Homo sapiens: one gene and its partner. The protein of the gene in region 2 interacts with the protein of the main gene of each other region in a biochemical or structural test. Each region holds a gene or a part of one and is shown on either strand. Other genes may lie near its edges.

What was found. Proteins that work in one complex are often made in the same cells at the same time.
Region 1: the proteins of CCNT1 (region 2) and HTATSF1 form a complex in vitro, tested with the Homo sapiens proteins (one study listed by BioGRID).

The regions. Positions count from the first base shown.
Region 1 is NC_000023.11:136,507,592-136,510,218, reverse strand, and holds part of HTATSF1 (17S U2 SnRNP complex component HTATSF1), read right to left. Parts: intron 1,129-2,627; coding exon 1,039-1,128; intron 138-1,038; coding exon 1-137. UniProt on the Homo sapiens protein: Component of the 17S U2 SnRNP complex of the spliceosome, a large ribonucleoprotein complex that removes introns from transcribed pre-mRNAs.
Region 2 is NC_000012.12:48,703,208-48,706,707, forward strand, and holds part of CCNT1 (cyclin-T1), read right to left. Parts: intron 2,690-3,500; coding exon 2,561-2,689; intron 1-2,560. UniProt on the Homo sapiens protein: Regulatory subunit of the cyclin-dependent kinase pair (CDK9/cyclin-T1) complex, also called positive transcription elongation factor B (P-TEFb), which facilitates the transition from abortive to productive elongation by phosphorylating the CTD (C-terminal domain) of the large subunit of RNA polymerase II (RNA Pol II).

The sequences.
Region 1 (2,627 bases), on a different chromosome or scaffold from region 2:
TGATAATCTGTAGTCCCATCCCATGCCTGGGCAGTGATTTGACGGCCACCAAACCATCTTCCATCGAGAGTCTGAATACAATAATCAGCTTCCTCTGGATCCCGAAAGGACACAGAGGCCACACCATCTGGGTGCCTCTAGAAAGATAAGAAAGAAAAAAAAGGAATGAATGATAAGATTAAAAATAAAACACATACATTTCACAAAGTAGGTAAGTAGTAGTGTTCTCTCTGATACTCTGAAGTAAAAGACTTTATGTATGAAGTCTTTCTTCCATTTTATCCCAGCCAGTCACGTGCAGTCAGCTGCTTCTTTACCTCAATCTTACCTAGCAAGAACCAAGCACAATGTCCTTGGAAATGTTTCTGCTGACATCCCTGTCTAATGAGAAGCAGGACAGTATAATTGTTAAGAGTGTAAACTCTGAAGTCATATTGCCCTGGGATTAAATCCTGGCTCTGTCAGTTACCAAATGAACAACCTTGAGCCAGGTGTTCAATTTCTAAAGTGTTAGCTTCCTCATCTGTAAAATGGGTGTAATAGTGCTAACCTGCCTCAAAGGGTTTTGAGAAGTGAGATAACATGTAAAGTAGCTTGTAATACACAAGCAATAAATGGTGACTCTTAATTATTGGGTGTCAATTCTGGAAGTAAAAAGAGGATGAGAAGAGGAAATATACAGGAGAATATTGTCCCTGATTGTTCCAAATATGGAGGATGAGAATAATTCACAAAGAGGGGAAAATGTGACTAATAGGGAACCAGAGATCTCATACATTTTTCCTGTACCTTCTTTCACCTGATCATGTACTCTAGGGTAATGAAGACGGAAAATAAGCAAGGCATACCAAATCTATCAAATCCTTGGCTTGTAATCCACGTTCATCTCATTATTGCTAATAGATGATTATCACAAGATAGTGGACTACTATATAAAAACATTAATCTAAAATTCAGGGGTATACTAACATCTGAGAAGAACTTATAAGGTGGAGGAATTATTGCTTTAGGATCCATATGTCCAAGCCATGAACTTACATCAAAGAGAAGGAGTTTCCTAATTTGTCCAAACTTCGAACACTCTACTCGAAGGTCTTCTCTGATCTCATTCAGCACCAACGGATCATCCTGAAAAATATGCATGATTAAAATGGGTTTGCTCCCTTCTTTAACTATAAATCCTGAGAATCCAATTTCTTGTTCTGATAAATCAACAAACAGAAAAAGGTTTTGCTTAAGGTTGTGTTTTTCATTCTATACAATTTTTTAAAAACTCAAAATCAAATAAAATTATACTACTACATACACTGCTACTCCTATAGGTTTGCCCTGCTTTAAACAAAGGAAATGGACAAGTATGGCAGGCAGCAGAAGGGGCCTACAGTGGCAGAGCAGGAGAAGATGGTGGAAGTCCTGTGGCGCATATTCAGTCAGACTGCTAATTCCTATGCTCTGCATGGGCATCAACATCACACTGATAAGAGCCCTTTGCTTTGTGTTTTGGATACATTCCTATTTACAGAAATGTTGTAATGGAGAGAGAGAGAGCAATATATCCCTTTTATTGACTAAGTGTCCTAAGATTGATTTTTGTGCTTCCAAGATGCTATTTTAACTCACAGAATAAACATCGTAAGGATTACTGTTCGTCTTGTCTCCTACCACATTGTAACAGAACCATACAAATAAGGAGCTGTTATTAAGCATGCAATAAAATACATTCTTAGCTGTTGCTTTCTTGCAACTATGAGCCTATTAAGAACATTCAAGTACTGCTGTTTCTAGTAGCCTAGAGTTCGGGTGGAAATCTCCCTATAACAACAAAATGATTTAAGATTCCCTCTGGGAATTAACAAATCTCTCTCCAAGTACCAATGCATAAAAAGGGCTCAGGAAAAGCTACATTATCAGCTTGAATTTCAACTATATACAAATATAAATGAAGATATCCTATCTACAAATTTCTATTGAAGGTGACTTATACTTTCTAGGAAACATTTAAGCGCATCTATCTTTCTTACACGCTTTCATTTTTCTCATCAGCTAAAGAGGAACTATAGAGAATTGTGGCTTTCCTCCCATAAGGTTCTTCAAAAAGCAAAAATAAGCTGGCAGGGAGTTACTGAAATCTGATTTAAAATAAAAAATATAAAATCATACTCATTTGCATAAATCTGAGGCTTCTAAAACTACAGTTGGCAGAACTCTGGACTTCCCCACTTATAAAACTCAATTTTGGAGAAGCAGCCAATTTGCTTTATACAAAATGATCAGACCTGAGAAGAATAAGGAGTAGAGAATAAAAGTTATGGCTTTTGACATGTGTGTGTGTGTGTGGGGTTAGCTCCTATTAGAGTGAGTGCTTTCAGAAGGCAGGACCTTTGTTTTATTGAGTTTCAGATACCTCACAGAAAATAGCACAGACTTTTGTACAAAGCCAATATTCAAGAAAATCTTTTTAAGAATTTGATAAACTGTTTCTAATACCTCTCTTTTATTCACCAAGGAAAATCAGGATTATATCAAAAACAAAAAAAAAACTGTGTCAACATGTTTAACAACTTTTAAATTGAAGCGTGATTCCATGGTGGGGGTAGGCATCACCTCCATTTCTACACCAATGTCTC
Region 2 (3,500 bases):
ATCGAGACCATCCTGGCTACAATCTTGCCACTGCACTCTATCCTGGGCAACAAAACGAGATTCTGTCTCAAAAAAAACAAAGCTGGCTGGACATGGTGGCTCACGCCTATAATCCCAGCACTTTGGGAGGCTGAGGCAGGTGGATAACCTCAGGTCAGGAGTTCGAGACCAGCCTGACCAACATGGAGAAACCCCGTTTCAACTAAAAATACAAAATTAGCCGGGTGTAGTGGCACATGCCTGTAATCCCAGCTACTCGGGAGGCTGAGGCAGGCAAATCGCTTGAACCCAGGAGGGGGAGGTTGCGGTTGGCTGAGATTGCACCATTGCACTCAATCCTGGGCAACAAGAGCAAAACTCCAACTCGAAAAAAAAGTTAAAAAAAAAAAAAATAGTGAAACTACTCATTTAAGGATCCATAATAAAAATGTATAATAATATTTTTCAGCCAGGTGCAGTGGCTCACGCCTGTAATCCCAGCACTTGGGAGGCCAAGGTGGGCGAATTACTTGAGCTCAGGAGGTCGAGAGCAGCCTGGGCAACATGGTGAAACCCCATCTCTACAAAAACTAGCTGGGCATGGTGGCGCACACCTATAGTCCCAGCTACTCGGGATGCTGAGGTCAGGGGGATCACTGAGCCCGGAAGGTCAAGGCCGCGGTGAGCCATGATCACACTACTGGACTCCAGCCAGGGCAACAGAATGAGACCCTGTCTCCAAAAAAAAAAAAAAGAATATTTTTCATAACATTTATAGTGATTTTAAAAGCTAGAAATTATCTAGACTTCTTCATGGAGAATTGTTAAAAATACATACATTCACATATATATCATTAAATACTAGCCAGACATTTTTAAAAAGTAGAGAATCCATCAGATGGGAAAATATTTGGGATATAGTAAGCAAATGAAAACAAACCAGAGACAAAATACATGCACACATAGCTATCTATAGAAAAGAAGCCACAAATAACAGTGGTTCATTAGTATACCTGTGCTTCAGTTGTCTATATAACAGGGGGTCCATGGCCTGTTATGAACTAGGCCACACAGCAGGAGTTGAGCAGCAGGTACGAGTGAGTGAAGCTTCATCTGTATTTATAGCCTCTCCCCACCATACATATTGCCACCTGAGCACTGCCTCTTGTCTGATCAGCAGTGGCATTAGATTCTTATAGGAGCACTTGAACCCTGTGGTGAACTGCCCATGCAAGGGATCTAATTTGCTGCTCTTTATGAGAATCTAATGCCTGATGATCTGTCACTGTCTCCCATCACCCCCAGATGGGACCATCTAGTTGCAGGAAAAGCACCTCAAGGTGGCCGGGCACAGTGGCTCATGCCTGTAATCCCACCACTGTGGGAGGCCAAGGCGGGCAGATCACAAGGTCAAGAGATCGAGACCATTCTGGCTAACATGGTGAAACCCTGTCTCTGCTAAAAATACAAAAATTAGCTGTGTGTGGTGGTGCACACCTGTAGTCCCAGCTACTTAGGAGGCTGAGGCAGGAGAATCGCTTGAAACCGGCAGGTGGAGGTTGCAGTGAGCCGAGATTGCGCCACTGCACTCCAGCCTGGCGACAAGAGCAAGATTCCGTCTCAAAAAAAAAGAGATGCTCAGGGCTCCCACTGATTCTACGTTATGGTGAGTTACGTAATTATTTCATTATGTATAACAATGTAACAATAATAGAAATAAAGTGAACAATAAATGTAATGTGCTTGAATCATCCCAAAACCATCTCCAACCCCACCCCCTGTCCATGTAAAAACTGTCTCCCATGAAACCAGTCCCAGGTGCCAAAAAAGGTCTGGGACCATTGGTCTAGAATATATCTGAGAGATATTTTATTCTTGAATTTTTCTGTATTTTCAAATTTTACTGCAACAAATACAAAACTTTCGCCATAAAATTTATGTGTTTTGTTTTTCAGACAGAGTCCTGGCACTGTTGCCTGCAGTGGTGTGATCATGGCTCACTGCAGCCTCAACATCCCATGCTCAAGCAACCCTCCCACCTCAGTCTCCCAAGTAGCTGGGACTAAAGATGTGAGCCAGCATGCCCAGTTGTTTTTTGTTGTTGTTGTTGTTGTTGTTTTTCTTTTTTTGTAGAAATGGGGTCTCACTTTGTTGCCAGAGCTTGTCTCGAACTGGACTCAAGCAATTCTCCTGCCTCAGCCTCCCAAAGTGCTGGGATTACAGGCATGAGCCACCACATCTGGCTTTTTTTTTTCTTTTTTTTAAATATAGAGACAGGGTCTTGCTATGTTGTCCAGGTTGGTCTTAAACTTCTGGCCTAAAGTGATTCTCCCACCTTACCCTCCCAAAGTGCTAGGATTACAGGTATGGTGAGCCACCATACCTGGCCTGATTTTCTTACTGTTAAGAAAAACACAAACACTAAAATATTCTTTTAACAACACCAATCTAAACTTCAATAAATCGAAGTTATAAAATTAAGTTGCATTGAAATACATAAAGATCCAGGCATGCTTGGGAGTAGGGAAAAAAAAAGAAAGGAAAAAAATTAAGAAAAACAGATGTGTAATTAATCTCCTACCTCACTTCTAGTATCAGGAAGGGATTCCTGAGGATGGAGACAAGTATGTGCTACCTTGATGACATGTTCCAATTTTTTGGGCTGCTCCTCCACTTTAGCTGCTAGAAACAAGGCTGCTGGAGCCACAGACTGAATGGAGAGAAAATAAATCATATTTATTATCAATTTATTCATTCATAGAGTAAGGTAGATCTAAAGAGGAGCTAAGTCTCAAATCAAGTTATTTGCTTGCCTCAACTTTGTCACCTCTTTACCCTTTCCCGCCCCCCCGCTTCTACCATCTTCCCCTCTCCTACCCATTAATCCATCTCCACTTCCAAATACCAATTCTTTGACAAACTGTCATTAAAAGCTGTCTATGGGAGAAGCTACTAGATGTAAGCAGACAGTTTTCTATTTAAAGTGAGATTCTTTATTAAGTTTGTATCAAATCACTCAATACATTTTTTAAGGAGTAAACTGAAATGTCCAGAATACGCAAATCCATATAGAGAAAAAGTTTAGTGGTTGCCAGGAGCTGCGGGGAGAGGAGTATAGGAATAACTGCTAATAGGTGAGGAGTTTTCTGGGGTGATGTAAATGTTCTGCAATTAGACTGTGCTGATGGTTGCACAATTTTGCGCATATACTAAAAACCAGTGAACTATATAATTTAAACAAACGAATTTCATTGTACGTGAATTATATCTCAATTACTTATACATATCGAACCTTTCAAAAATACAAAGCATGGCATTATATGCAAGACATTATTTATAGAAAGCATTAAGAGGGAAAAATTGAAGTCAATATAAAAGTAGATAACAAACTTTATAAAAGATTAAAGCAATATGACATAAATGTAGCCTGGTGATCTTGGAAACTTCAGGAAATAGAACTTTTCTTGAATATTAAGAACATTTCAGTGACTCAAAGATAGTAATGCTAAGAGCTGTATTTC